Homo sapiens: one gene and its partners. The protein of the gene in region 2 interacts with the protein of the main gene of each other region in a pairwise test. Each region holds a gene or a part of one and is shown on either strand. Other genes may lie near its edges.

Region 1 (4,383 bases), on a different chromosome or scaffold from region 2:
CATGGTGTCTGAAATACTCTTCCATACTGCTTTCTTTGATTATCTTTGACTAAACGTCAGCATCAGTGAACTAAATTAAACAACATGCCAAAAATACAAACACTTAACATACAAGCATTCCTCTTACCTTTCTTCCAACTCCTTTGTCTTCCAGCTCTTTCCCCTCTGGTCCTACTATTCCAGTGTTGTCTAACCCAACATACCTGGGAGATATGACCCACCTTCCTCAGTAACAGTTTTCTCTGAAGCAGCAATTCACAAATGGGAATGGTAGTGTGTCATTTCTTTACTTGCCCTATCTTGTCTATATCTCCTCTTCTATGACCTATTCCCCAAAAAATAATTTTCCCAAAATTGGTTACCCTAAGCAACTGCCCATGTTCTCATAGGGACTGGGAAAAGGCCCTAATAAGACCTAAGGATTTTTATAAATAAAGATCATTATAAGTGCTAATATCTATGAAATGCTTATCATATGTGAGGCACTATGTGAAGTTATTTCATCAATCATTTTACTGAATTATCACAATTCTGTCAAGTAGGTGGCTCCACTAAAGATGGTCCTAGGATTCTAGTTCGCTCTAACATACAGCAGAACCTGATGTTCTGTTCATTTCCTCTTTCTTCTCTTTCCAGCTCATAGTAAAGTCTCATCTTCATCAATTGGATTTTTGTATTTAATTGATAGTTCCATCCTGCTCCAAAACATAGCATTTAGAAATTCAAATTCAGTTCAAATGACACTGTTTTGCTCTCTCATCTCTTAATATTTACCAAACATATTCTCCCCATTTGTTATCTCTTATTTAAAAATTCCCATATGGCTTCTTATTGATAATGTCAACATTCTGCTTCAAACCTTCTCTAGAGCCAATTAAGGTATAATTTGTAATTAAATACATAACTTCTATTGTACCTTCACTAGGTGATCTGTCAAGAATGCTATTGCTGAGGTGCTCTGGGCCCTGTGAACCAGAACCTTAAACTGTCTAGAACTGCTCTGTCCAACATGGTAGTTGCTAGCCACATGTAACTATTTATAATTAAATTTTAATTAAACTTTTTAAAATTAAAAATTTAGCCCCCCAGTCACACTAGTCATATTTCAAGTGCTCAATAACTCTATATGGCTAATGACAACTGTGTTGGACAGGGCAGATATCAGAAAATTTTTATCATTTAAGAAAGTTGTGTTGAAAAATGCTGCTTTAGACAGTACTAAACACACCCTCACAGCAACCAAGAACTAGGAACTGGGAAGAAGTAAGGACCTACTCTTCTTTGAATCTTCTGCCAAGAAAGAAAGAAAAAGCCACTTATGCCTAATACATCACCAGTAGCCCAAAGATACCTAGGACAATTAGGCTATGAAGGAGTGTGCATGTCTTACTTAAGGAGCTGGTAGCCTCTGGAGTTTGCTTCATATGAATTCTATGTTACTATAAAGTAAAATATTCCATGAATGAGGTTTGCTGGTTTCATGAATTTTGACTTAGATACAATCTGAAAGTTCCAATTCAAAATCCAAGTTTATAGATTACATGTATATGTAATAACATGTGTGTGTGTTTATCTTGTCTTAGTAATCATAGTATGATAGACATGGAAAGAATATAAGACTTGGAGTCAGTAGTACAGGTGTCACATACTACTTGGTGACATTATGAGGCCCTCTAGAGCTCCATTTCTCCATCTCTAAGATGTTGATGAGAATTGCCATAACTATCTCAAAGGACTATTGTAAAACTCAAAGTGTAGGTATACGAAAGTACTTTGTAAGGAGCATGATTGAATCTGCAATGGTTTATTATTTTATATAGATATGGTACAATGTACAAATAGGGTAGTTCAGGCTGAATGCATTTCTGAATGATTTTAATCTGATATGACTGTATTTTTGCCTTTGTGGTCATTTATTTCACTGAAAAGTGGAACGGTGAAGAAAAAATTTAGTTATTGAAATTTCTGATTGGTTAGATTCTATTAATTGAAATACCGTGCATTGTTTGTTGTTTAGTTTATTTGGTCCTGAACATTTTCTTCTCAGGATTAAAAAAAATAATAACTAGGAAATCTAAGTTGTTTGGAACAGCTTTTACCTTTTAACTAATAGTTTTTAAGTAATCATCAATAATGAACCCATCATGGTAATAGGGGTTCAGAAATAACAAAATACAAGCATTATGGATATTCCTCAGTGTGAGGGGGTGAGAGGGATAATTTTCAAAACATATTTTTACTAATTACAAATTGAAATGAGCTTCTATCCATTCTCATAGATCAATCAGAACAAGAATAATTCTATTTCATGCATTGATTAAACCAAAACAAAAGTGAAGGTCATTAACTTGACTGAATTATTGAGTTTGCATTAGGGATTCTAACCTTAAATAACAAGTCTTTATTCATTCTCTAAGTTGAAATCTGTTGGGGTCATTAGGAGAACCTTATGCATCTGGCTAACATTTACTCCCAAACCTGGCATCTATGACCTACTCCCGCACTTTGATCTGTGTATGCTATTTATGCGTCAAGTAAAACTGCTTTTCAGATGCAGCCATACCTTCTATAGTGGCTCACGATTTTGATACTTAAATATTTTTCTCTTATAACACAAAGATTAACACAGTGCTCAGATATTGTAGAAAATAAGCCTGGAAACAAAGCTATTCCATCAGATGTTTCTTCACTGTATTTATTAGGTTTTATCATCTTGAAAACTCAACGAAGTCACTTTATTTATTCATTCATTCATTAACAAAGCACCTGAGAATCAAGCTGAGTATGACCAAGGGCATGAGGTTTTATCTCCAGTTCCAGAGATCTAGTTTACCTTTGTTTAGAGTTAACAAAGGTATAGATGCTACCTTGTAAGATGCTCTGCCAGGTAAATAGTTGAGATATACACTTAGCCACTGTTTCTGGTCAAGCCTGCTGTCCTCAAGCCTTTGTTGCATATGGGACTATATTACTGAAGGAAAAATAAGCGAAGCTGTTAACTCTGGCCTCTAGTAGATGATGCTAGCTTTAACAATAAACATATGTTGTTGGGCGTCATGATTTATTCACTTCATTGGACTTGTTTACCTCTTGGAAAGACCTGGATTTTGGAAAGGGGAAAATGCCATTACCTTGGAGCTGAAAAGAGTTCTTCTCTGTCTGTAGCTTAAAGGATTTCTCTAATTGTAGATCCCAAGAGATAAAGAGAACTGACAATGTAGCTTTGAAACAAATCCTAATAGCATACAATCATCCATTTAATCAATAACATAGTTGAAGAATGTCCTATTTTGACACAAAAATGTTGTGGTTAAGGATGTTTGGAACACATGGATGATCAATAAATATTTGGTGAATTCAGACCATTGTTCCAGGTTAATTCATGCCATACACTCGTCTATCTCTACCAAGAATTCAGTATTCCCTATGGCATTTTCCTTTAGCAAATAAAACAGGAGGCAAACACAGTATATCAAATCTTACCCTAATAACCACACTTCTAGCCCTTCTCGGGGCATAAATAGTGATGGCCAAGATAGACTACTCCTGAGAACCGTGTCTTGCTGCTTCACCCAGAAAACAAAGCACAAATCAGCCCAAGGGCCTTGCATTTCACTGTGATGAGGCAACTTCAGAAACTCAAAGCTTAAATGGAGTTGTGTGTTCTTTTCCACTCTTATCTTGAAGAGATACCTGTCATTTCCTTCAGAAAGTATTTGGCTGGCCTTCATGATAGCAGCAGGCAATTGCTATTGTTCCTAAATTCAGAAGAAGCTTAGCTTAGAATGAAAGCACATATATTAATTAGAGGAGAACTAGCGACATTGCAGTCTGATGGTTTACAGAATATTATCCTTTTCCAGGAATAATAAGGCTTCCCTTTAACGGTTTTAACTGGTGATTACTGACAAAAATGAAAGAAAAACAGCTCATTCTATTCTAGCAAGTCAATAAGGAAACGCCTAGAATTAACTGATTCTTATTTGCCAAAGGCAAAATATTCCAACCCAATGAACAACAAATGATCAAGCTGGTTCTCATTTTCTCTTCATTTTAAAAAAATTTTTCCATGTTTTTGAAAAATAATCAGTAAATAAGAAACAATTGCACCCAGGTGTTTAAACATTCTGTTGACAAAATGGTCTTCAGAAATGGAAAGGCTTAATTGTTTGTTAGAGATTATACAACATATTATTATGTCAATATTTTATAACAATCACATAACTGAACTCTCTCACTTTAGAGAGAAATTGATGCTGGGAACACTCACCTGAGTTGATGTCAGAGGAATATGACTTGAGTCTTCTCTCTCTCAGGCAATTATAGAACCCACTCTGCATTTTTTAACATCATGCATCATTTCATTAGTCATGAAAACTTGTT
Region 2 (4,383 bases):
AGTCTGTTACAGCTCCATCCACTGAAAATTGTCATAAAAGACATTTTTCAAACGAGTTCATTTTTAGAAAAACCACTCCAGATATCTTACCTTCGGAAATCATCCAAGGAGTGTGATAAACATGACAACCCCCATAAACTGGGTAAACAACAACAATGGAGTGAAAAACGACCACACATGCCATAAAGCAATGTTGAAGCTGAAAAGAACAAGACATAAACAGTTGACAACTCCAATATGCATCAATATATTTTATTCTAGAATCCAGATTTAAAGTATTCAATGTAGAAAAGTTCATCCAGTCAGCAACTTTCTCTATGTATCATATTTCTCAAGTATGTGACTTAGCCAATGCTGGAAAGGAAAACTCTAGATATACTTAAACAAGTATCACAATTTCTTCAAGAAGGCCCTGGAACTGGAACCACTAAAGGTCTCCTAATAGGGGTTGACATGGCTTAATAGAAACTGAAGTCTCTTAGTTTCTGACTTCAACAATAATTTAAATGGCTACAGCCCATTTTTATGACATCACACACTAAACTATCATGGTAAAAAAGACCAAAATATTGTCTCTTAAAAACAGAATGAAAACAGTTATCACTTATAAGCTGCTATTATATCTTTCATTGAGAAAAACACTATTCCTGTCATCAAAGTAAAATTAAAACACTAAGTATAAAGATTTTTAATGACTGAAATTTCTAAGAACAGAATAGGGAAAACTATATTCAAATAAGTTCAGATGGTTATTGGTTTTAATATATAATAGTTTGATAAGTATGAGTATTAAATAACTATAATCACAAATCACACTGTCTAAAAAATTAACATTTCTGGACATGATCTTACCCTCATGGGAAAAAGTAAAACAACGTATCTGCATGCCCCCACATACAGGTTAACAATAACCACATCACACTGTCAAACAACCTTGAACTTCAACTACAGAAAATAAGTCATAGAAAGAATATGTATAAAGGTATATGGTTCTTCCAAAATAAAAATTCAATTAGGCCGGGGGTGGTGGCGCACGCCTGTAATCCAGCACTTTGGGAGGCCAACACAAGCAGATGGCTTGAGGCCAGGAGTTTGAGACCTGCCTGAGCAGCACAGCGAAACCCCATCTCTACAAAAAATACAAAAAATAGCCAGATGTGGTGACACATGCCTGTGGTCCCAACTACTCGGGAGGCTGAGTGAGGCAGGAGGATCACTTAAGCCTGGGAAGTCGAGGCTGCAGTGAGCTGTGATCATGCCACTGCACTCCGGCCTGGGTGACACAGTGAGACCCTATCTCCAAAAAGAAAAAAAAATCCAATTGATATAAAGAAAGAAAAAACTAGAGAGCTGCACACAACATAGGAAAAGTAGTTTTCTTTCTGGTTGAATCATAGGATATATTTCCTTTGTGTTTTCATGTAATTTACAGATTTTTTTTCCTCAGTGAGCAAGTATTACTTTTATAAACCCAAAAAACCCTGTATTTTTCATTGAGTATTTAATTAACTTATGAAGAAGGTTATTCATTGTGGCATTGTTTGGGTATAAATATAACGAAGTCCAACAACAGAAGACAGGTTAAATAAATCATGTTATGTCCATGCTGTGAAAACTATGCAACTGTTTAAAAAAATGAGACACATCTATATGTACCATTATGGAAGAATCCCAAACTATAAGGATCCACTGAAAAACAAAAGGAGAAAAGGACAAACAACCACTTTGGAAAGCAGTTTGGCATGATTTACTGAAGTCAAAGGTACGTACATCCAACAATTTTACCCCTTGGGGTACATATATATACATATATACATACATCTCTACACCCAACAGAAATGTGTTCACTGTGCTACAAGAGCCATGTACAAGAATGCTCTTTATAGCATCCTTCATAGTAACCCCAAACTGAAAAAAATCTAAACACAATCAACAAGGGAAAAGAAAACTGGGATTCAATTAAACAATGGAATGCTAAAGAGCAATGAAGATGAGTCACTGTTCCCGGCGACAATATGAAAGAACTGCACACAATGCTGCACACAGCCAGCTCAATGTGAAGGAATACACCCTGTACAAATCCATTTCTATAAAGTTCAAAAGCGTAGCTGAAACAAAAATAGAATATCTAATGGAAGCAAAGCAAGTAGTTACCATGAAGGTCAGGGCAGTATTTACCTGTGGCAGGAGGGAAGGTGTAGTAACTGGGAGGGAGAATGAAGGGGGTTCCCAGTGTGCTGGCTCAGTTTACACCAATGCTCACTTCATGAGAATTCATTCACTAATTCATTCATCTCAGTTTTTTTCACTTTTCTATATGTACTGTATGTCATAATAAAATAGATTTAAAAAGCAAAATGCAGAATATGTACAGAATGTCACCATCTGTGCTTTAAATAACTAGATCCATAAATAGAAGGAGAAAGAGATACTAATCAAAAGGGAACCAGAGAGCATGAATGACCAGGAGACTATTTTTCTGTTTTAACTTTTTTTCTTTCGAAGTTTGGACCAAGCATATCACTATCTGATCAAAAAAAAAATTTGTTGTTCATTCCTGTTAGTCATTTCAAAGTTAACTTACCAAATTCCTGCTGCAATAAAGGAGGCAGTGGTAATGGGTATCAAGGCTGGATACTTGACATCATATTCTCCAATTCCACAATACCATTCCAGGTAGACTATGCAGTAAAATGCAATTGATAAACTGACAAGCAACAAGGCACTGCCACAGAGAAACCAGCTGTGGAGATAAAAACAGTAAGAGGTCTGACAGCACTTAATGAATCGTCACATATCTTAAAAGTTTTTACTAATAGCTTAAAAATCTGCTTCTAAGAATATCAAGTGTTGCAGAGGGAGCCATACTTAAACAATCCATGCTTTCAGAAAGTCTCAATCTATGGGAGATGGGGGTGAGAAAAAGAGATACACAACTCAGGAAAGAATGAAAAGTAAGACTTGAAATACATGCATTTATATATACACTCTCATCAGCCAACCAACCAAGGGAAAATTCTGGTCATGACAATGCATTTTCTTTAAAAATACAAGGAAGAGGCCGGGCGCAGTGGCTCATGCCTATAATCCCAACACTTTGGAAGGCCGAGGCAGGTGGATCACCTGAGGTCAGGAGTTCGAGACCAGCCTGACCAACACGGAGAAATCCTGTCTCTACTAAAAATACAAAATTAGCCAGGCGTGGTGGCGCAAGCCTGTAATCCAATCTTCTTGGGAGGATGAGGCAGGAGAATCGCCTGAACCCAGGAGGCAGAGATTGCAATGAGCTGAGATGGCGCCATTGCACTCCAGCCTGGAGTGCCTGGGCAACAAGAGTGAAACTCTGTCTCAAAAAATAAAATAAATAAAAACAAAAATACAAGGAAGATAGTGGCTTTCTGGTTGTTTCTGAAGTTTTGAGTGTGACAGGATTAAAGAAGTTTATCAGTGGGAAACTTCATTCCTCCAAGTTAAGTGGACTTTCTTGGAATACTGAAAGACAATTAGGAAGATCAATAATTCAAATTTTCTCTCATAAAAGATTTCTAAATGAAATCCTCCCATTTTCAAAATATCTTCTACTCACCACCTCACCCTCAATGCCAATGCCTTTTTACTCCCTTCCAATTCCACCTGTGACCTGATTCAGCAAGAGTGAGGCAACCTGGACAACCCCTTCCCTCCACCCCAGCTGGACTTGGGGACTGAAATGCCTTTCCCATTCTCCCAACTCAATCCAATATCCCATCATCATCTGCTTCTCTATGGGAAAAGCCTGACAATCCATGTGGAAGAGAGAGGGAGAACAGATGGCTACAACAGATAAGTTACAAAGGCACAAAGTGAACTTCCAATAATGGCAAGGTTCCGGATTCCATGAAGGCTTTTTACGATGATGCAATTCTGAGATTCGGAGTCATGAGAGGCTGTAGAGGGAAGGGGTTAAGAGCACAGCCTCTGAAATCTGTCTGTATGGGTTTGAATCTTAACTTGAGCAAGACTAGTTTTGTGACTCTAGGCAAATTACCTAACCTCCGTGTGTTTCAGAAATATTGACAGTACTTAACTCAGAATAGCTGTGAGAATTAAATCAAGTGGTCAGCAAAGTGCTCCTCACAGCTGACTCTCAATCATAATCATTATTATTCCACTCAAGTTATTTTTATTTTCATTCATTTATTTCTGAGCCGGAGTCTTGCTCTGTTGCCCAGGCTGGAGTGCAGTGCTGCAATCTCAGCTCACTGCAACCTCCGCCTCCCAGGTTCACCAATTCTCCTGCCTCAGCCTCCCAAGTAGCTGGAATTACAGGCACTGGCCACCACGCCCAGCTAATTTTTGTATTTTTAGTAGAGATGGGGTTTCACCATGTCCATATTGGCCAGG
Region 3 (3,716 bases), on a different chromosome or scaffold from region 2:
TCAAGAAAGACCAGCCAGGCACAGGCTCACATCTGTAATCCAAGTGCTTTGGGAGGCCAAGAAGGGAGGATCGCTTGAGCCCAGGAGTTCAAAACCAACCTGGACCAACAGTGAGACTCTGTCTCTACCAAAAAAAAAACAAAAAACTAACCAAGGGCAGAATCTGATGGCAGCCCCTGAAAGAATCTGGGGGAAACTGGAGGATATGAGTGTGTGTGTATGAAGTTAACTTCAAAGCAAGCTTCCTGTGCTGAGGGGGTGGGAGGTAAGGGTGTGATGAGGCAGGGCTTCTCCTTTGGCAAAGCCTCTGTAGTCCTTCCTTAGTCACCAGGGAGTTGTGGGAGATATAGACCAGGGTTGCAGGTGCCTGGAGTACAGGGACAGCAGACAGGTCATGGTGGGTGAGGGGTCAGCTGGTGGGGCACAGATGCGTTTCCTCGGCAGTCCACATATTCATAGCTCTGAAAGACCAGCTGCTCTGAATGGCTCAGGTATGAACAGGTCAGGGTGCCCCTGGAGAGGAAGCAGGCCTTGTTGCCATGGCTGGGAGGAAAAGGAAAGCTCTGGCCCCATTATACTGTCTGGGGGTGGGGAGCGGGGAGCTCCCTCATTTGCCCTTCCCTCTGGCTCCCCACTCTGCCAAGGTACCTGGGACAGCTGCCCCACCTGTTTTCCAGCAGCTTCCAGACAGCCCTATGCCTGTTGCCCCTAATAACTTATAGGCAAGGTGAGACTCAGAAAAGGGGCTAGACTTGCTATTCCCAAGAGCCAACAAAGATTCATGGGGTCAGCTTGGAAGACTCTCTGCCCATGAGGTGTAGCTGAGTGAGAATGAAGTCAGAAGTGAGAGCAGGGATACCAGAGCTCCAAGCTCTACTTACTGGATGTGCAAAAGCACATGGTGGACTTTGATTTCCAGCCAGGTACAGATTTTGCTGAGAGAGAAGAAAAGAGAACGTGGGACCACGTGTCACATGGAGCAGCCTGTCAGCTCAGAAGATGCCTGCAGGTCCCAGTTTCCTTACCCCACAGAACTCTTTCCTTCCATCAGGTGCCCCCAAAATGTCACTCCCACCCCTTCCCACCCTTCAGGTGAGTGTAGCAGCATGGCTGCACTATCACTCTGACCTCCACTCACTTGGCCCAGGCACATGCTGGACCCCCATTCAGGAGACAGACAAAACATTCTTCTTCCTCAGCAATGCAGGCTGAAGAGCCCAAGGTCACATATTGTAAAGATTAACCAAATTCCAGCCTGTTTTTCATTCTAATCAAGGTCCAAACAAGCAGAGGCTGGGGACCCTGAACCCTTGCTTATTACATTCTCGGCCATGGGAGGGCAGGCCAGATGCTGGCTGAAGAATTTGCTAAGCAATCAGGAAAGCTGGTGGGTATTAATTGGGTCCCTAAGCCAGGCAAGTGGCTAGGGGAGAAGAGATCAAGGGGTACTCACTATGTGTTTTCATCCCGTATCTTGGTAGCTACTGCGTAAAACATCTGTCAACCAAATGGGCACAGGGTTAGCCCCAACTCCAGCTGCCCCTTTCCCACTACCACACATCCACACACCAGTGGGCAGGGCTGGCCAGGGAGAGGGGAGTCACCTGTTCACTGGCCAAAGGGCCAATGTGTAGGAGAAGGTTGTTGGAAACCTGCCCCACCACGAGGGACAGGTGCAGAACCTCGAGGGTCAGCTGTGTCACCATAATGGGGTAGTAGTTGCCATTGGAGATGTTTAAGATATTCTGGGGATGAAGACAAGGGAAGGGAGGAGTGAAGATGGCCCATCCTTAGGAAAAGCCAAACAGTTGCAAAAGCCTGGCTGTCTGGCCTGAGCCCCATCTACCATGACAAGCTTCAGGTGCAGAGGATGAAAACTGGGAGCCCCTTGGAGGGGCATTGAATGGTGAGGGGTCAACTTTACGAAGTTAAGCTGCCTCAGGATCCAGGTCCATCCTGTACAGCTTCTTTCCATTCAGTCCTGTCCATCCAGAGAGTCTCAGGCACTGTCACCCCACTCCACCCCTGTGGTTTACTTATCTGGCCCGGATTCTGACCCCTTACTGTGTAGAGTCCCAATCCTTACCATCTGTCATGGAGCTCATGGTTGCTCCTACTTCTCTTCAGGCTCCCAACACCCTCTGGGTGCCATAAGATCTCTGGCTTCCCATGCCCAGGGTCATAACACTGGACAAAGGTTACAGCGAAGTATTGCTAGGAAGGGGGGTTTGGAGCCAAGGGCACCCACCCACCGTTATGTTGAGGTAGATATCAGCCTCATCAAAGGCCACTGTGGAGGAGTTGAGGCCTGCAGGCTGCACAATGACGGACCGGGGAAACAGGAAAAAGACGATGAAGGAGGAGGTCACCAGGCAGATGAGCACGGCCAGGAACACAAAGAGCTTCCTGTGGGAAAGCAGGACCCAGGATGGAGGAATGGAAAAGTCTGAACACCAAGGAAACTCGGAGAGGGGGTTCAGACACTCCTCTCCATATACAAAGCTTTCCCCTGCACACTACCCCAACAACATTTAGCTCCCCAGATGTGGCCCGGAATGAGTAGGAGCACAGGATTGGCAGGCAGGCAGCCTGGTTTCCACTCCCAGATCTCTGTTCCCATTGACCCAATAACATGGAGCAGCCCACTTAGCCTCCTTAAGTCTCAGTTTCCTTGTTGGTAAAAGGCAGATAATTGTACTGACCTCACAGAATTTGTTATCGGCTAATATATGAAAAAATACTAATCACAGGTCCCTGCACATGGCAAAAGCACAATGAATGCTAGTTATTATCACTAGAAGAAATAAGTCCATATTTGGAAGTTCTGAATTTTAACATTCAGAACAGGACACCATCCATCCAATTCAAAATTCAGATATGCATTAAAGAGATAGTACTTTGTTAGTATCTTATGATGTGCACTGCTAATTTCTTTTTTTTTTCTTTTTTTTGAGATGGAGTCTTGCTGTGTCGCCCAAGCTGGAGTGCAGTGGCACGATCTCGGCTCACTGCAACCTCCACCTCCCGGGTTCACGCCATTCTCCTGCCTCAGCCTCCTGAGTAGCTGGGATTACAGGTGCCTGCCACTATGCCCGGCTAATTTTTGTATTTTTAGTAGAGGCGGTTTTGCCATGTTGGTCAGGCTGGTCTCAAACTCCTGACCTCGTGATCTGCCCGCCTTGGCCTCCCAAAGTGCTGGGATTACAGGGTTTTTTTTTGTTTTTTTTTTTTTTTCAGATGAGGCCTCGCTCTGTTGCTCAGGCTGGAGTGCAGTGGCATGATCTTGGCTCACTGAAGCCTCCACCTCCTGGGTTCAAACAATTCTCCTGCCTCAGCCTCCCAAGTAGCTAGGATTACTGGTGTCTGCCACCACGCCCAGATAATTTTTCTATTTTTAGTAGAGACAGGGTTTCGCCATGTTGGCCAGGCTGGTCTTGAACTCCTAACCTCAGGTGATCCGCCTGTCTTGGCCTCCCCAAAGTGCTGGGATTACAGGCATAAACCACCACGCCCAGCCTGATTTCTAATTCTGGTATAGTGGGGTGGCGGAGAGGGTTCGGCTTGGTGGTGACTCCCAGGTTGACACCAGGACCTTGGGAGGAGGTTGAGGGAGCTCCATGTCAGATGGACTCAGATCACAAACACAGTAGGCCCCAGGTCTGCCTGAGGTTCTGAAGTATCCCAGAACAGCGGACAATAGGTTTTTCATCTCTACT
Region 4 (4,383 bases), on a different chromosome or scaffold from region 2:
TAGCTGGGATTACAGGAGTCTGCCACCATGCCTGGCTAATTTTTTGTATTTTTAGTAGAGACAGGGTTTCACTATGTTGGCCAGGCTCATCTCGAACTCCTGACCTCAACTGATCCATCCACCACGGCCACCCAAAGTGCAGGGATTACAGGTGCGAGCCATCATGCCTGGCCCATAAAAGCTGTTTCTAACTTCAAAAATATTATGCAAGTCAAAGAAAACATTTCGCTAAAAACACTAAAATCAAAGTTTGACACATCGGAACTCTATTATCTACAGTATTTAAAACTACATGAAGCAAATTCTAAATTTTAACATAAACATAAATTCTAAAAGTAACAAATACATATACAAAAAAAGACTTTAGAACAAGGTTTTATGATACATATGTGAGAATTTTAAAAAATCACTATACGACAAATTGATAGAAAGAAAAAAATGTATCGAAAAAACAGTGTGATTTTATTGCAGTACACTATTTTCTGACATTTCAATTCAGATCTAGAACCCCATATTACAGCAAAATCATTATCTAAATTTACTGAGTATGAATAAATAGTGAGAAGGCCAAGCTTGGGTTTATAGCCTGCTTTTAAGCCCTGATCAAGTCAAATTCTTAGTGTCCATTTTTTCATCTCTAAAATATAAGGGGGTAAAATAAGAATGTCTCTAGGTCCTTTTCTATATTAAAATTCTAAAATTCTTACTATGCATAATCAAGAAGAACTAGGGGGATAAAAAGAGATGTAAAATATTCCAGTTCAGCATACAGCACAATAGATAATCCTTGCTAATCTGTACATACAGCTTAATTGGAAAATTAAGAACTCAGCAATTTCTATAAATGGTCTAGATTTACAGTTATATTTATTTAGGCCAAGAATGATGGTATTAGGGAGCTAAGTATTCCCTCAGTGAAAAAGTTCATAGCAAAGAGGACAAAACAGACCACTAGAAACATTGTGTACTGTATCTTATTTTAGACTTGGCCACAGCAAACAATTTACTAATAAATTTGAAGTAAAGCTTTGATAGGTTGTATTTGTGATGCTGAAAAAACACAGATGGACAAGAAATCAGTTCCAATTAAAGGTTAACTCTGTGGAAGAATGGTGGGAGATGAATAGGGGGCAGGAAGTTTCAAGGATTTGTTACCTACTTATTAAAATAAAATTGAAATATGATGACTAAAGATTAATATTTATAAAACCTGGCAGGCATATGGTACTTATTATATCTTTCTTTTTGGTTAAATAACAGTAAAAACATTTTTGTTAGTTATGTATGCATAATATATAAGAAGTTATATAACATGTATATTTTCATATAAACAAAGAATTTTGTTGCCAAAATTTGTATGCAAAATTTGTTGCATGAATTTCTTCAAGACCCAGGTAAAATTACACCCCTTCTAAAATCCTCTTTCCTGATTCTCATTAAAAATCTTAAAAATCATATTTCAACTCTTGCATATTCGATCATTATATTTTACATGCACTATTTCATCACCTAGATGCTATGTTATAAATAACAGGAGCTCAAAATCTGTAGATGAGAATGTGTAAGGGTTAGAATCTGCTATAAGGCCCAGAGATTTACTGAGCATCATAGCTTCACAGACCTTGTGTCCTGTACTCAGGATGAAGGCTGCTCCCTATAAGCTAAATAGATTGCAATAGATTAACAGTTTTTAATGTTAAAAATGAAAATATAAAACTACAAGAAAAAAGTATATGTGAATGTAATCTTGTAATGCTGATGAACTTTCTAAACATTACACTGAAACAGTAATATATTTGAATTTAAAATTTTTATTTAGTCTTATTGATTGATTGATTGATTGATTGATTGAGACAGGGTTTCACTTTGTCACCCAGGCTAGGCTGCAGTGGGGCAACCTGGGCTTACTGCAGCCTCCACCTCTTGGGCTCAAGCGATCCTCCTGCCTCAGCCCCCCAAGTAGCTCGGACTACAGGCACATGCCACTACTTCTGGCTAATTTTTTAAAACATTTTTGTACGGATGGGGTCTCACTATATTGCCCAGGCTGATCTCAAACTCCTAGGCTCAAGCGATCTTCCCAAGTGCTAGGATTACAGGTGTGAGCCACCACACCCAGCCTGAATTCAAACATTTTAAATGTTTATATTTAAAAAGCACAAAAAGTTGAAAATATAACAAATGGAAAGAAAATACTTGCAATATTATACAACTGATCCTTGAACAACACACGTTTGAACTGCACAGTTCTACTTACACACAAATTTGTTTTTAATGAAAGTTACACGTGTGCCTTCCTCTCCTGCCTCCTCTGCCTCCCCAGCCTCCATTTCCACCTCTTCTGCCTCTGAAACCTTCCTGAGACAGTAAGACCAACCCCTCTTCCTCTTTCTCCTCAGCCTACTCAATGGGAAGAAGATGAGGATGGAGACTTTTATGATGATCCACTTCCACTTAATAAATAGTCAATGTATTTTTTTCTTCTTTTTAATTTTTTTTTTTTTAGACAAGAGTCTTGCTCTGTCGCCCAGGCTGGAGTGCAGTGGCATGATCTCAGCTCACTGCAACCTCTGTCTCCCAGGTTCAAGTGATTCTCCTGCCTCAGCCTCCCAAGTAGCTGGTATTGCAGGTGCCCACCACCACACCCAGCTAATTTCTGTATTTTTAGTAGAGACAGGGTTTCGCCATGTTGGCCAGGCTGGTCTTGAACTTTTGACCTCAAGTGATCTGCCCACCTCAGCCTCCCAAAGTGCTGGGACTACAGGCGTGAGCCACCGTGCTCCGCCCCTTATGACTTTCTTAACATTTCCTTTCCTCTAACTTTAAGAATACAATAAATTATACATATAACATAAAAAATATGTGGTAACTGACTATTCATGTTATCAGTAAGGCTTCTAGTCAACAGGAGGCTATTAGTAATTAAGTTTTTTGGAAGTCAAAAGTTATATGTGGATTTCTGTCTGTGCTGGCAAGGCAGGGTTCAGTGCTCCTAAACCCTGCGTTGTTCAAGTGTCAATTGTACTACAGAGAAACAGTAGCTACGACAAACACTTAAAATTTCTTTTTAAAAATTCATTAAGAAAACACACCTGCCCCAATAGAAAAAACACAACAGTAATCAATGGACAACTGCTGAGAGAAACAAAAATGCGCAAGGAAAAAAAGTTAATCTTCCTAGTAATAAAAACAAAACAAAACAAAAAAAACCCCAGAAACTCAAAGCAGAAAGCAGGTTCCCCTATAATGTGAAGGAGATGAAAAACCGATGACTCTTGATTTTCTCAGTGAAAAAGGCACTCCAACGTACTGTTGGTAGGAGTAGAAACTGTGTTTTCTCTTTTTTAATCCTTTCTGAGGAGCAATTTGGTAACATATTTTTAAAAGATAAACTTAGGAACAATAAAATTTCAAGAGTTTATTTCCACATTCATTGATTCATGAATGGAGCCGTACCAAACTGAACCAAAATTCATGAATGGGGCCATACCAAACCCCAAATAAGTGGGGTTCAGTACTCCACTAAGGGGGATGAAGCGTTAAACTTTTATAAGATCTTGACTGCTGACCTAGACTGGTGCCTTAACACTTGATCTCTGACTCCTGCCTTGTCCTTATCACACAAATCTAATCCCTGATTCCAATGTCTGGAATAATATGCTCACTAGGAAAGGATCTAAGTGAGGAGAGGTGAACAAATACAATGGGTACTGGGGTACAGAATGTATTAAACAAATCTGCAAAGTAATCTCAAATATAGTATATTAATAACCATCATCATCTCTTTTACAAATTCACTCCTCACATTTCATCTTCATAAAATATAAACATGAAGAGGAATCTTAATAAGAAATTCTACAGAAAACAAATATATACATAATAATCAAACAGGCAATTTCTGTTGAAAAAATAGAGAACACCATAAAAGCACAAAATTTTGTTTTTAAAATTAGCTTGCTCACCTCTCATTTATTCCAGTAAAATAAATGGAACTACTTGCTAATGTTATTTACTTCAGGATGATTATTACTAAGAAAAATCGAACTACATACAATATTTGGCAAATATTTATTCAGCCACTATTATAAATCAGGCATTGAACAAGGGGACTTAGAAGACAGGGGTAATCCAACTTGTGTTCAAATTCTTTGACAGTTATCCAAATTGAGATGTTTACCTATGTCCTTTATATTAGGCTATGATCCAGAGCAGTAAGATCCAACAGAAATGTTAACATAAGCAACATATACATTGAAATTCTCTAGTAATCTCATTTTTTAAAAAGTAAAAAAAAGTTAATTCTAATATATTATTTAACCTAGCATATGCAAAAGTTATCATTTCAACATGTAATCATACTTTTAAAAGACTGATAAGATGCTG
Region 5 (4,383 bases), about 83 Mb from region 2:
TACCTGTTAACTAAATACCTTAATGGCAGCAAGGTCATCAGAATTACCTGGGCAGATTCCTTAAAATACACATTCCTGGACCTTACCCCTGGATATTCTAATTCAGTGCAGTATAAAAAGTGTGATTCAGCAAGACTTGAGAACCTCTTTGTTTATGGAATTTTTGGTTTGAGTTCTTTTTTTTTTTTTTTTTTTTTGAAATGGAGTCTCACTCTGTCGCCCAGGCTGGAGTGCAGTGGCGTGATCTCAGCTCACTGCAAGCTCCACCTCCCGGGTTCACAAGCGATTCTCCTGCCTCAGCCTCCCTAGTAGCTGTGATTACAGGCACGCACCATCATGCCGGGCTAATTTTTGTGTTTTTGTAGAGATGGGGTTTCACTATGTTGGCCAGGGTGGTCTGGTCTGGAACTCCTGACCTCAAGTGATCCACCCTCCTTGGCCTCCCAAAGTGCTGGGATTACACGCGTGAGCCACCACACCTGGCCTGAGTTCTTTTTTTTTTTTTTTTTTTTTTTTTTTTGAGATAGAGTCTAGCTCTAGCTTTGTCGCCCAGGCTGGAGTGCAGTGGTGCGATCTCGGCTCACTGCAAGCTCCGCCTCCCGGGTTCACCCCATTCTCCTGCCTCAGCCTCCGGAGTAGCTGGGATTACAGGCGCCCGTCACCACGCTTGGCTAATTTTTTTGTATTTTTAGTAGAGACGGGATTTCACCGTGTTAGCCAGGATGGTCTGTATCTCCTGACCTCGTGATCTGCTCCCTCGGCCTCCAAAAGTGCTGGGATTACAGGCGTGAGCCACCGCGCCTAGCCCATTATCAGATATTTTGAAGTAGCTATTTTGAGGTGGCCATTTTAGTATCAGAACTTTTTTTCTTTTTCTCTTTTCTTTTCTTTTTTCTTTTTTTTTTTTTTTTTTGAGACAGTCTTGCTCTGTTGCCCAGGCTGCAGTGTAGTGGTGTGATCTTGGCTTACTGCAACCTCCGCCTCCTGGGTTCAAGCAGTTCTCCTGCCTCAGCCTCTCGAGTAGCTGGGATTACAGATGCCCGCCACCACGCATGGCTAATTTTTGTATTTTTAGTAGAGACGGGCTTTCACCATGTTAGCCAGGATGGTCTCGATCTCCTGACCTCGCGATCCGCCTGCCTTGGCCTCCCAAAGTGCTGGGATTTGTATATTTCTTAATAATGAAAGCAAGCTGAGAATCAGATATTTTGAAGTAGCTGTTTTGAGGTGGCCATTTTAGTATCATTTTAGTATCAGAACGTTTTTTTTTTTTGAGACAGAGTCTTGCTCTGTTACCCAGGCTGGAGTGTAGTGGCGTGATCTTGGCTCACTGCAACCTCCGCCTCCTGGGTTCAAGCAATCTTCCTGCCTCAGCCTCTCGAGTAGCTGGGATTACAGGCAGATACCTGTAATATATATATACAGGCTGATAAATATTATATACTTATATAGTATATATAAATATATAATATAATATGTATATATGAGATGTGCTGTATAATAATAATTAATAGTATAATACATATACATATACATATATAATAGTATAATACATATACTATTAATACTATAATACTATAGTATATTATACTATAATATACTATTACTATATTATACTGTTATACTATATTATACTATAGTATACTAATAATAGTATATACTATTATTATATACTAATATAATAGTATAGTATACTAATACTATATTATACTATTAATATATAATATACATACATATACATATAATATGTGTAATATAATACATATATGTATATATGAGTTGTGCTGTATATAATGCTGTGTATGTATATATGAGATGTATATGTAGATGTATATGTATATAATGCTGTATATGTATATATGTACATATTATATATGTATATATAATATATATTATATAATATAAATATAACAATATAAATATTATATATATATCCAGGAATCTGCCCAAGTAATTCTGATGACCTTGTTGACATTAAGGTAGTTAGTTAGGTACAAGCAAGAATGCGTTCAGAGTGAAACCCCATTATATACAGCACATCTCAATTGTATCTAGAAGAGGCAAATAATGCTTTATAGAAATATATCTGCTGGAGCGTGGCTTATGCCTAGAATCCCAGCACTTTGGGAGGCCGAGGTGGGTGGATCCCCTGAGCTCAGGAGTTCGAGATCAGCCTGGGCAACATGGTCACCTGAAGTCAGGAGTTCAAGACCAGCCTGGCCAATATGATGAAACCCTGTCTCTATAAAAATGCAAAAATTAGCTGGGCATGATGGCAGGTGCCTGTAATCCCAGCTACTTGGGAGGTTGAGGTGAGAGAATCACTTGAACCTGGGAGGCGGAGGTTGTAGTGAGCTGAGATCATGCCACTGCACCCCAGCCTGGACAACAGAGCAAGACACCATCTCAAAAAAAAAAAAAAATATATATATATAAATATATATATATATATATTTATATATATTTATATATATATATTTATATATATTTATATATATATATTTATATATATATATTTATATATATTTATATATATATTTATATATATATATTTATATATATATTTTATATTTATATATATATATAAAATCATATATATATACACGCAAAACATATTCTCTCTTATTTGAGAGAGCTAAAAATTAAAATAATCGAACTCTTGGAGATAGAGAGTAGAAGGATGGTTACCAGAGGCTGGGAAGGGTAGAGGTGGTGTAGGGAAGAAGTAGGGATGGTTAATGGGTACCAAAAATTAGAACAAATAGGCTACTCTGGTTGCACTGCCTGTGAGTTAGCCCTGCTCTGCAAGGAGCAGCCATAAAGAATTTTTTGTTAGTAAAAATGATTAATAATAGTAATTTAATTGTACATTTTAAAATAACTAAAAGTATAATTGGATTGTTTGTAACACAAAGGGTAAATGCTTGAGGGGATGGATACCTGATTTACCCTGATGTGATAATTATGCACTGCATGCCTGTATCAAAATGTCTCATGTAACCTTGAATATATACACTACTATGTACCCACAAAAATTTAAAAACAAAATTAATACAAAAAAATACAAAACAGACATTCATATCCTGGGGAGGTAATAGGCAATGATGAAGAAAGGGTCAAGAGTGTCTGGGAAAATCCTTTGGTAATATAAAATAGTATATAGGTATAAATGGTGTTGATCAGGGTCAAAAAACTTAGCTTGACACTTTACTAACGTAAATATAATCTGATGAAATTCAATTCTGACTGAAGAGCCTTCAGCATGGCAGATTGATGCCCTACAGGAGTACTGGTAGACTTTTGCCCATGGCCTCCTTTCTGTTTGGGGTGGCTTGTCTTGGGCTCTGACGTCAGACAGATCTGGGAGAGTCCCAGCTCCATCTTTTAATAGCCATGTGACCTTGGGTATGAAACTCAACCATTCTGTTTCATGTTTTCATCTTTAAAGTGAGCATATAAGAATTGCTGTCTCATTGAGTTACTGTGAGAATTCAATAAGAAAAATAATGAAATCATGTAAATGCATAACAAAGTAAAAGCCCCTCATAGGCTATTTGCCACTTTTCCCTCAGTCCCCCAACACACTGTAGCACTATCTCTAAATAATGATAACTCTGTTAATAGAGCTAGGTTTCATTTGAAACACAGTGTATAACAAAATGCATTAGGACGCTAGGGTCTATCCGCCCAAGCATCTTAGTTGCTTATGGAACCATAAAAATCTCATATAAGGTATTTTTGCATTGCTACCCCTTGGAATTATGGTACTCCAATCTTATAAAAAGTAGGGCTTAAGCATCAAGATTCTATGATCTTTCTTAGTTGAAGAGATAGTTATTGATTATATTCTAGTCCAGAAGATATAACAATTATTTTGAAAAAAAGTTACATTACCTGTAATGGTCCCCTTTTGAGTATAGTCTTTTTTTTTTTTGAGACAGAGTCTCGCTCTGTCGCTCAGGCTAGAGCACAGTGGCGCAATCTCAGCTCACTGCAACCTCCGCCTCCCGGGTTCAGGCGATTCTCCTGCCTCAGCCTCCTGAGCAGCTGGGATTACAGGTGCACGTCACCACGCCTAGCTAATTTTTGTACTTTTAGTAGAGACTGGGTTTCACCATGTTGGTCAGGCTGGTCTTGAACTCCTGACCTCATGATCCACCTGCCTCAGCCTCCCAAAGTGCTGGGATTACAGGTGTGAGCCACTGTGCCCGGCCTACAAATAGTCTTTTTTTAAAAATATTTTTCTTTCTTTTTGAGACAGAGTCTTGCTCTGTCACCCAGGCGGGCGTGCAATGGTGCAATCTCAGCTCACTGCAACCTCCACCTCCCAGGTGCAAGCAATCCTCCCAGTTCAACCTTCCGAGTAGCTGGGACTACAGGAAC
Region 6 (3,468 bases), on a different chromosome or scaffold from region 2:
GGATGCAGTGCAGTGAACTTCACAGCCTGAAATATGTAAGTGACACACCTGGAATATGGAACTGCAACTTTACTAGCACTTTAAATTTCAAATGAGCCAGCTGGCCAAGCTGCTACTGAAATCTTTGGCTCTCAAATTCTTCACTATAAAATAAAACGAGGCTGGGCGAGGGGGCTCACGCCTGTAATCCCAGCATTTTGGGATGCTGAGGAGGATCACCTGAGGTCAGGAGTTTGAGACCAGCCTCGCCAACATGGTGAAGCCTCGTCTCTACTAAAAATAGAAAAATTAGCCAGGTGTGGTGGCAGGCACCTGTAATCCCAGTTACTTGGGAGGCTGAGGCAGAAGAATTGCTTGAACCTGGGAGGTGGAAGTTGCGGTGAGCCGAGATCGTGCCACTGCACTCCAACCTGGGTGGCAGAGTGAGACTCCATCTCAAAAAAATAAAAGATTAAATTAGATTATCTCTGAGGTCTCATCTAACTTATATTTTTTTCACGGTTCTCATTTCTTCATATATCTTTGAAGGGTTTACACTGAGAATTAAGATTGCACATGCCTGCATTTAACCAATATTATAAAACCTCACTGATAATGAATTTTCCTTAACAGAGGCTTAATAAAAGTAAGTAACTGTATGTACCACAAGGAGATCCAAGATGCATTATTGTCACACAATGCTTAATACATACTAAACTGTTTGAAATTTTTTTAAGGTAAATGAAAGACACTATAAGTACATCAGACTTGTTTATTCCTTAGAAAAAGAAGTGTGTTAGACAATGAAACTGTTGGCTTTTATGTATTTCATAAATAAAAGCACAACTATCTATAGAAATGCTTCTGTTTAGAGAAGTCAGTAGTAAAATGTTATACTTTCAACTCAAATTACATAATATAAAAATATAAAGCTCATCTATATTACCAGAAGATAATACCCTCAAACAAACCCATTTAAAAACAGGATGTCCCTAAGTTTTTCAGAAACTTTTATGGATACAATCTTATACTTGTGCTTATGTTCTCTGATAATAATTCTTTTTTTAAAAAAAAAAAGTCCTCAAAGGTAATATTTTTACTTTTTGGAATTTCTGATAAATAAATCATAATGTGATATTCACAGACTTTGTGAGAAAATTACAATATTTATTTACACATTTACATATAGCACAATGTATTGGTCAAGTACTAGTAACAGGCAATTAACAAACTAATAAGAAAATCAGCATTTTAACAATTTAAACGCTTCATGACAGGGTAATTCATGTCCAACATATCAAAAACATATTTATAGATAACTTTAGAAAGAAAATACATACTTTTTTTGATAATCACAAGTAGCAATGAGATTTTCTATATTATTTTCAGTCTCACTTTAGAAATGTTTTAATTGTCTAAATTTAATCAATTCATCGATTAAAGGAAAGACAATAAAATAGTAAAATTACATGTGTTTATATATAAGTGTGTGTGTTTCAAATAACAAAACGCAGGTTGTAAACTAAAATCACTGGAAGGCAAATTGAAGACAAAAGTGATGCTGGTTTAAGTTGTTTGGTTCTTCACATAAATTCCAGTTTCCAAGTTGTGTTTTACAACTCTAGTAATATCCAGATAGATAATTCAACCTGCAACTTTTTTCTTCTATTCCTGTTTTTCTCTTGTTCACACTGTAATTTTTGTCTTTTTACTGATACTGATTAAATAAAATAGGACTTCCAGTCTTAATACGTCTCCCAGGAGAAGTGAAATGAGTTTAACTAGGTATTGAGTATCATTTTCCATTTTACTTTTCTATATTTATCTGATCTAAAAACACTCCAACCATGTAGTTTTTCTTCCATCCTTTTAAGTCACTTACTTTCAGTAAAAAGGGTAAACGGAACACTGAAAGAACCGGGCCAAAATCAAGGTGAAACATACCCCTAGAAATACAGTTATCATAATTTTGGATTTTAGAATGGCCAAACCTATTAATTTACTAAAACTAATCATGAATTCAAAAATCAGCATTGTTTTAAAGAGGTTTTTATTGGAGGTCAGGGCATGATCTACTGCAAAAAGTATACTTTACTCAATACCATATTAGCTCAAAAGAATACCAGAACTTCATGTGGCCAAAGCAGCTGAAATGTCATTACCTTCTTGATTTGGGCAGTTTGGACTAAGAAAGGGGATGCTACTGGAATTTCCACACTGGTCATCTACCTTTGGGGAAACAGCTTGTTCTTGACACTTTCTGTTCTCTTTAGCAAATTCTAATGTCACACTCTCCTCCGCAGGCTGAAATGGCCTCTCTAAACGAACCACTGGTCTCCTTGATTCTACTTCTTGTTCGTGTAGCAATCTCTCGACCTCCACCTCAAGCTCCAAAGTCTCTTCATCGGCTTCTACATCTAGTTGTTGCATCAACTCCTCCAACTTCTTGGCCTTTCGGAGCTCATTTTGCTGTATGATCGTACAAAGGTGTTCAGTGAGTTGCTCTTTTATCTCAGTCTTGCGCTGTATATCTAGCTTTGCTGCAATGTACTCTGCTTCAGCCCTGTCAAACCGCTTCCTGTAAGGATGTGTATAAAGATAGGTCCATCAGTTTTCCATTGAAGAAGATATTCAAAAGAGGATCTAGAAACAATAACTCAACTCCAAAATTGGGAAAAAATATATAATGAAGATACGGATATTACTACTTTACAAACACTTGTCTACATGTTGGCCAGACTAGGCTATGGCTGCTGAAACTTTCACAGTATCCTTACTTGAATTCACCTAATGAAAACATGTTATTCTGCACGAATGTTTTCTTTACAAAGCTGTTTTTGAGTGAAGGCAGGCTAAAAGGTTAATTCAGTGGTATGCTAGTTCTGGGGTGGGAGGATGGGGAGCCCTGATTTGTAGCGTTTACATTTCCATGGGATAATTACTACCACCCTGTCCAATTTCAAGCCACCAACGTGATATTACTGAATGCAGAACTGGGAAGAGATACACAAAATCCACATGAACCAGGGTAAGCTAGCTTCAGCACACAGCTGGTTAAATTTATGAGAAGACAGACAAGAGATGGAGAAAGTGGAAAATTGTTCTCTTGATTAATAAATTAGAAAAAAAGAAAAATTCTGATGGAGAAAGATACGGACAGTGGTCGGGAGATGAATATAAATGGAACAGAGCACACCCAGCAAAATGATACTGGGTGAGGGCAAGAAGTAAACATCAAGTAGAAAACCTCAGGATAGCTATATGCAGGATTTCTCAACCTTGGTGCTACTGACAATTTGGGCCATATAATTATTTGTTGTGAGAAGCTGTCCTGCACTGCAAGATGCTAAACAGCATCACTGGCTTCTACCCATTAGTTGCCAGTAATTCCCAAAATTTATGACAACCAAAAATGTCCCCAGGCATTGCCAAATGTCCCTTATTGGACACAAATGCTCCCAGTTGAGAATCCTTGGGTTAAGTTGTTCT
Region 7 (4,060 bases), on a different chromosome or scaffold from region 2:
GTGCAGTGGCACAATCTCGACTCACTGCAACCTTTGCCTCCTGGGTTCAAGTGATTCTCCTGCCTCAGCCTCCCAAGTAGCTGGGACTACAGGCATGCGCCACCACGCCCAGCTACTTTTTGTATTTTTAGTAGAGATGGGGTTTCTCCATGTTGGCCAGGCTGGTCTCGAAGCCCTGACCTCAGGTGATTCACCCACCTCAGCCTCCCACAGTGCTGGGATTACAAGTGTGAACCACGGTGCCCGGCCTCACATGAAACTTTTGATTTATAGAGAGCAGAGGGAAGAGCCGGCTGTGCCCATCCTTTTCTGGGGCCATCGAGTGGCTCCTGGGCAGCCCCCAAGGTTAGGAAGGGCAGGAGCAGCCAGGGTTCTCTGATGCCCCAGACTCAAGCACGAGGGAAGGTCTCAGGGGTTCCATGTGAGCCTCATGGATGTCTCTGCTTAGCAGAGCCCTGGCTTTGGGCATTGTCCAGATAGGGGGTGAGAACCAGATCTTCTCATCTCCAGGACCTCAGACGTATAGTTTTCTCAGATTTCTGTGCTTTCTGGGGCTGGGCTACTAGTGGAAGAAAGCAGTCTATTCTGTCTTCTCCCAAATCTCCCAGATGCCCAGTCTGTTGAAGGAGGAGCAGAACCAGGGGGCCTTTCCCGCTGAGGCCCGACCTGTGTCTCCTTCAAATGACACGCGGGACTCAGGGCCTTCCCATGACCATGGGGCCCAGGGGGCGTCACCTGGCCCAGGGCCCAGTGCTAGAAACAGATGACCCCAGGAGGAGGAGGCAGGGCAGGAGGGAAGCTGGCAGGGCTGGGATGGTCAGCCAGGCTGAGGGGCGGACTCGCACCAGGATGGAGCTAGGAAATGATCCAGGTGTGTTTGGCGGCTGCAGGTGGGTCCGCATGGCTGTGCAGGGAGGGAAGGGCTGCGTGGCAGGAGAGCAGCCGGGGGAGGCCCAGACTCTGCTGAAGAGATGCCTGTTGTGCCGGCCTCCACATCCGCTGCCCGCTCCTTCCGGAGCTCCTGCCCCGCCATGCTCAGCCTGACTCTGACCAACACGTTGGAGAGAAGAATGATCCCTTTGTGCTATTAAGCTTGCTTATTTGGTTTCTAAGTGCTTCATGCGAACCTAGAGGAAAAAATTATTTTCCACCTTTGTTTGTCTTAAGAAAATAACACACTTTTTTTTTTCCTATTTGAACAGGCAGACGGCTAATCCACATGGTCTTCGTCCTTGACGTCGTTTTACAAGAAAACAATGGGGCTGGTTTTGCTTCCCCGTGCATGATTTACTCTTAGAGATGATTCAGAGGTCACTTCATTTTTATTAAACAGTGAACTTGTCTGGCTTTGGCACTCTCTGCCATTCTGTGCAGGCTGCAGTGGCTCCCCTGCCCAGCCTGCTCTCCCTAACCCCTTGTCCGCAAGGGGTGATGGCCGGCTGGTTGTGGGCACTGGCGGTCAAGTGTGGAGGAGAGGGGTGGAGGCTGCCCCATTGAGATCTTCCTGCTGAGTCCTTTCCAGGGGCCAATTTTGGATGAGCATGGAGCTGTCACCTCTCAGCTGCTGGATGACTTGAGATGAAAAAGGAGAGACATGGAAAGGGAGACAGCCAGGTGGCACCTGCAGCGGCTGCCCTCTGGGGCCACTTGGTAGTGTCCCCAGCCTACCTCTCCACAAGGGGATTTTGCTGATGGGTTCTTAGAGCCTTAGCAGCCCTGGATGGTGGCCAGAAATAAAGGGACCAGCCCTTCATGGGTGGTGACGTGGTAGTCACTTGTAAGGGGAACAGAAACATTTTTGTTCTTATGGGGTGAGAATATAGACAGTGCCCTTGGTGCGAGGGAAGCAATTGAAAAGGAACTTGCCCTGAGCACTCCTGGTGCAGGTCTCCACCTGCACATTGGGTGGGGCTCCTGGGAGGGAGACTCAGCCTTCCTCCTCATCCTCCCTGACCCTGCTCCTAGCACCCTGGAGAGTGCACATGCCCCTTGGTCCTGGCAGGGCGCCAAGTCTGGCACCATGTTGGCCTCTTCAGGCCTGCTAGTCACTGGAAATTGAGGTCCATGGGGGAAATCAAGGATGCTCAGTTTAAGGTACACTGTTTCCATGTTATGTTTCTACACATTGCTACCTCAGTGCTCCTGGAAACTTAGCTTTTGATGTCTCCAAGTAGTCCACCTTCATTTAACTCTTTGAAACTGTATCATCTTTGCCAAGTAAGAGTGGTGGCCTATTTCAGCTGCTTTGACAAAATGACTGGCTCCTGACTTAACGTTCTATAAATGAATGTGCTGAAGCAAAGTGCCCATGGTGGCGGCGAAGAAGAGAAAGATGTGTTTTGTTTTGGACTCTCTGTGGTCCCTTCCAATGCTGTGGGTTTCCAACCAGGGGAAGGGTCCCTTTTGCATTGCCAAGTGCCATAACCATGAGCACTACTCTACCATGGTTCTGCCTCCTGGCCAAGCAGGCTGGTTTGCAAGAATGAAATGAATGATTCTACAGCTAGGACTTAACCTTGAAATGGAAAGTCATGCAATCCCATTTGCAGGATCTGTCTGTGCACATGCCTCTGTAGAGAGCAGCATTCCCAGGGACCTTGGAAACAGTTGGCACTGTAAGGTGCTTGCTCCCCAAGACACATCCTAAAAGGTGTTGTAATGGTGAAAACGTCTTCCTTCTTTATTGCCCCTTCTTATTTATGTGAACAACTGTTTGTCTTTTTTTGTATCTTTTTTAAACTGTAAAGTTCAATTGTGAAAATGAATATCATGCAAATAAATTATGCAATTTTTTTTTCAAAGTAACTACTGCATCTTTGAAGTTCTGCCTGGTGAGTAGGACCAGCCTCCATTTCCTTATAAGGGGGTGATGTTGAGGCTGCTGGTCAGAGGACCAAAGGTGAGGCAAGGCCAGACTTGGTGCTCCTGTGGTTGGTGCCCTCAGTTCCTGCAGCCTGTCCTGTTGGAGAGGTCCCTCAAATGACTCCTTCTTATTATTCTATTAGTCTGTTTCCATGCTCCTAATAAAGACATACCCAAGACTGCAATTTACAAAAGAAAGAAGTTTATTGGATTTACAATTCCACATGGCTGGGGAGGCCTCACAATCATGGCAGAAAGCAAGGAAGAGCAAATCACATCTTACATGGATGGCAGCAGGCAGGGAGAGAGTTTGTGCACAGAAACTCCCATTTTTTAAACCATCAGATCTTGTGAGACCCATTCACTATCACAAAAACAGCACAGGAAAGACCCACCCCCATGATTCAATTATCTCCTATCAGGTCCCTCCCACAACACATGGGAATTATGGGAGCTACAAGATGAGATTTGGGTGGGGACACAGAGCCAAACCATATCATTCTGCCCCTGCACCCCCCAAATCTCGTATCTTTACATTTCAAAACCAATCAGGTCTTCCCAACAGTCCCCCAAAATCTTAACTCATTTCAGCATTAAGTCAAAAGTCTACAGTCCAAAGTCTCATCCAACACAAGGCAAGTTGCTTCCACCTATGAGCCTGTGAAATCAAGAGCAAGTTAATTACTTCCTAGATACAACGGGGGTACAGGCATTGGGTGAATACAGCCATTCCAAATGGGAGAAATTGGCCAAAATAAAGGGGCTGCAGGCCCCTTAAAAGTCCAAAATCCAGCAGGGCAGTCAAATCTTAAAGCACCAAAATGACCTCCTTTGACTCCATCTGTCATATCCAGGTCACACTGATGCAAGAGGTGGGTTCCCATGGTCTGGGGCAGCTCCACCTCTGTGACTTCGCAAGGTATAGCTTCCTTCCTGGCTGCATCATGGGCTGGTGTTGAGGGTCTGCAGCTTTTCCAGGCACATGGTGCAAGCTGTTGGTGGATCTACCATTCTGGGGTCTGGAGAATGGTGGCCCTCTTCTCACAGCTCCACTAGGCAGTGCCCCAGTAGGGACTGTGTAGGGGCTCCAACCCCACATTTCCCTTCTGCACTGCCCTAGCAGAGGTTCTCCATAAGGGCCCCACCCTGCAGCAAACTTCTGCCTGGGCATCTATGCGTTTCCATACATCTTCTGAAA

Evidence for each region.
Region 1: the proteins of TMEM128 (region 2) and SLC7A14 interact in binary tests that used the Homo sapiens proteins (3 or more experiments, as listed by UniProt).
Region 3: the proteins of TMEM128 (region 2) and TMEM106A interact in binary tests that used the Homo sapiens proteins (3 or more experiments, as listed by UniProt).
Region 4: the proteins of TMEM128 (region 2) and ARL13B interact in binary tests that used the Homo sapiens proteins (3 or more experiments, as listed by UniProt).
Region 5: the proteins of TMEM128 (region 2) and HSD17B11 interact in binary tests that used the Homo sapiens proteins (3 or more experiments, as listed by UniProt).
Region 6: the proteins of TMEM128 (region 2) and GORAB interact in binary tests that used the Homo sapiens proteins (3 or more experiments, as listed by UniProt).
Region 7: the proteins of TMEM128 (region 2) and TMPRSS2 interact in binary tests that used the Homo sapiens proteins (3 or more experiments, as listed by UniProt).

The regions. Positions count from the first base shown.
Region 1 is NC_000003.12:170,579,116-170,583,498, reverse strand, and holds part of SLC7A14 (solute carrier family 7 member 14), read left to right. Parts: intron 1-4,383. UniProt on the Homo sapiens protein: Imports 4-aminobutanoate (GABA) into lysosomes. May act as a GABA sensor that regulates mTORC2-dependent INS signaling and gluconeogenesis. The transport mechanism and substrate selectivity remain to be elucidated.
Region 2 is NC_000004.12:4,237,737-4,242,119, forward strand, and holds part of TMEM128 (transmembrane protein 128), read right to left. Parts: intron 2,744-4,383; coding exon 2,585-2,743; intron 200-2,584; coding exon 100-199; 3' UTR 91-99; intron 1-90.
Region 3 is NC_000017.11:43,214,478-43,218,193, reverse strand, and holds part of TMEM106A (transmembrane protein 106A), read right to left. Parts: intron 2,407-3,716; coding exon 2,253-2,406; intron 1,746-2,252; coding exon 1,605-1,745; intron 1,498-1,604; coding exon 1,454-1,497; intron 936-1,453; coding exon 882-935; intron 514-881; coding exon 393-513; 3' UTR 1-392. UniProt on the Homo sapiens protein: Activates macrophages and polarizes them into M1-like macrophages through the activation of the MAPK and NF-kappaB signaling pathway.
Region 4 is NC_000003.12:93,982,477-93,986,859, reverse strand, and holds part of ARL13B (ADP-ribosylation factor-like protein 13B), read right to left. Parts: intron 1-4,383. UniProt on the Homo sapiens protein: Cilium-specific protein required to control the microtubule-based, ciliary axoneme structure. May act by maintaining the association between IFT subcomplexes A and B. Binds GTP but is not able to hydrolyze fit; the GTPase activity remains unclear.
Region 5 is NC_000004.12:87,377,001-87,381,383, reverse strand, and holds part of HSD17B11 (estradiol 17-beta-dehydrogenase 11 precursor), read left to right. Parts: intron 1-4,383. UniProt on the Homo sapiens protein: Can convert androstan-3-alpha,17-beta-diol (3-alpha-diol) to androsterone in vitro, suggesting that it may participate in androgen metabolism during steroidogenesis.
Region 6 is NC_000001.11:170,551,104-170,554,571, reverse strand, and holds the end of GORAB (RAB6-interacting golgin), read right to left. Parts: intron 2,558-3,468; coding exon 2,110-2,557; 3' UTR 738-2,109; downstream 1-737.
Region 7 is NC_000021.9:41,463,296-41,467,355, reverse strand, and holds the end of TMPRSS2 (transmembrane protease serine 2), read left to right. Parts: intron 1-1,202; coding exon 1,203-1,214; coding exon of another isoform or gene 1,215-1,236; 3' UTR 1,237-3,051; downstream 3,052-4,060. UniProt on the Homo sapiens protein: Plasma membrane-anchored serine protease that cleaves at arginine residues. Participates in proteolytic cascades of relevance for the normal physiologic function of the prostate.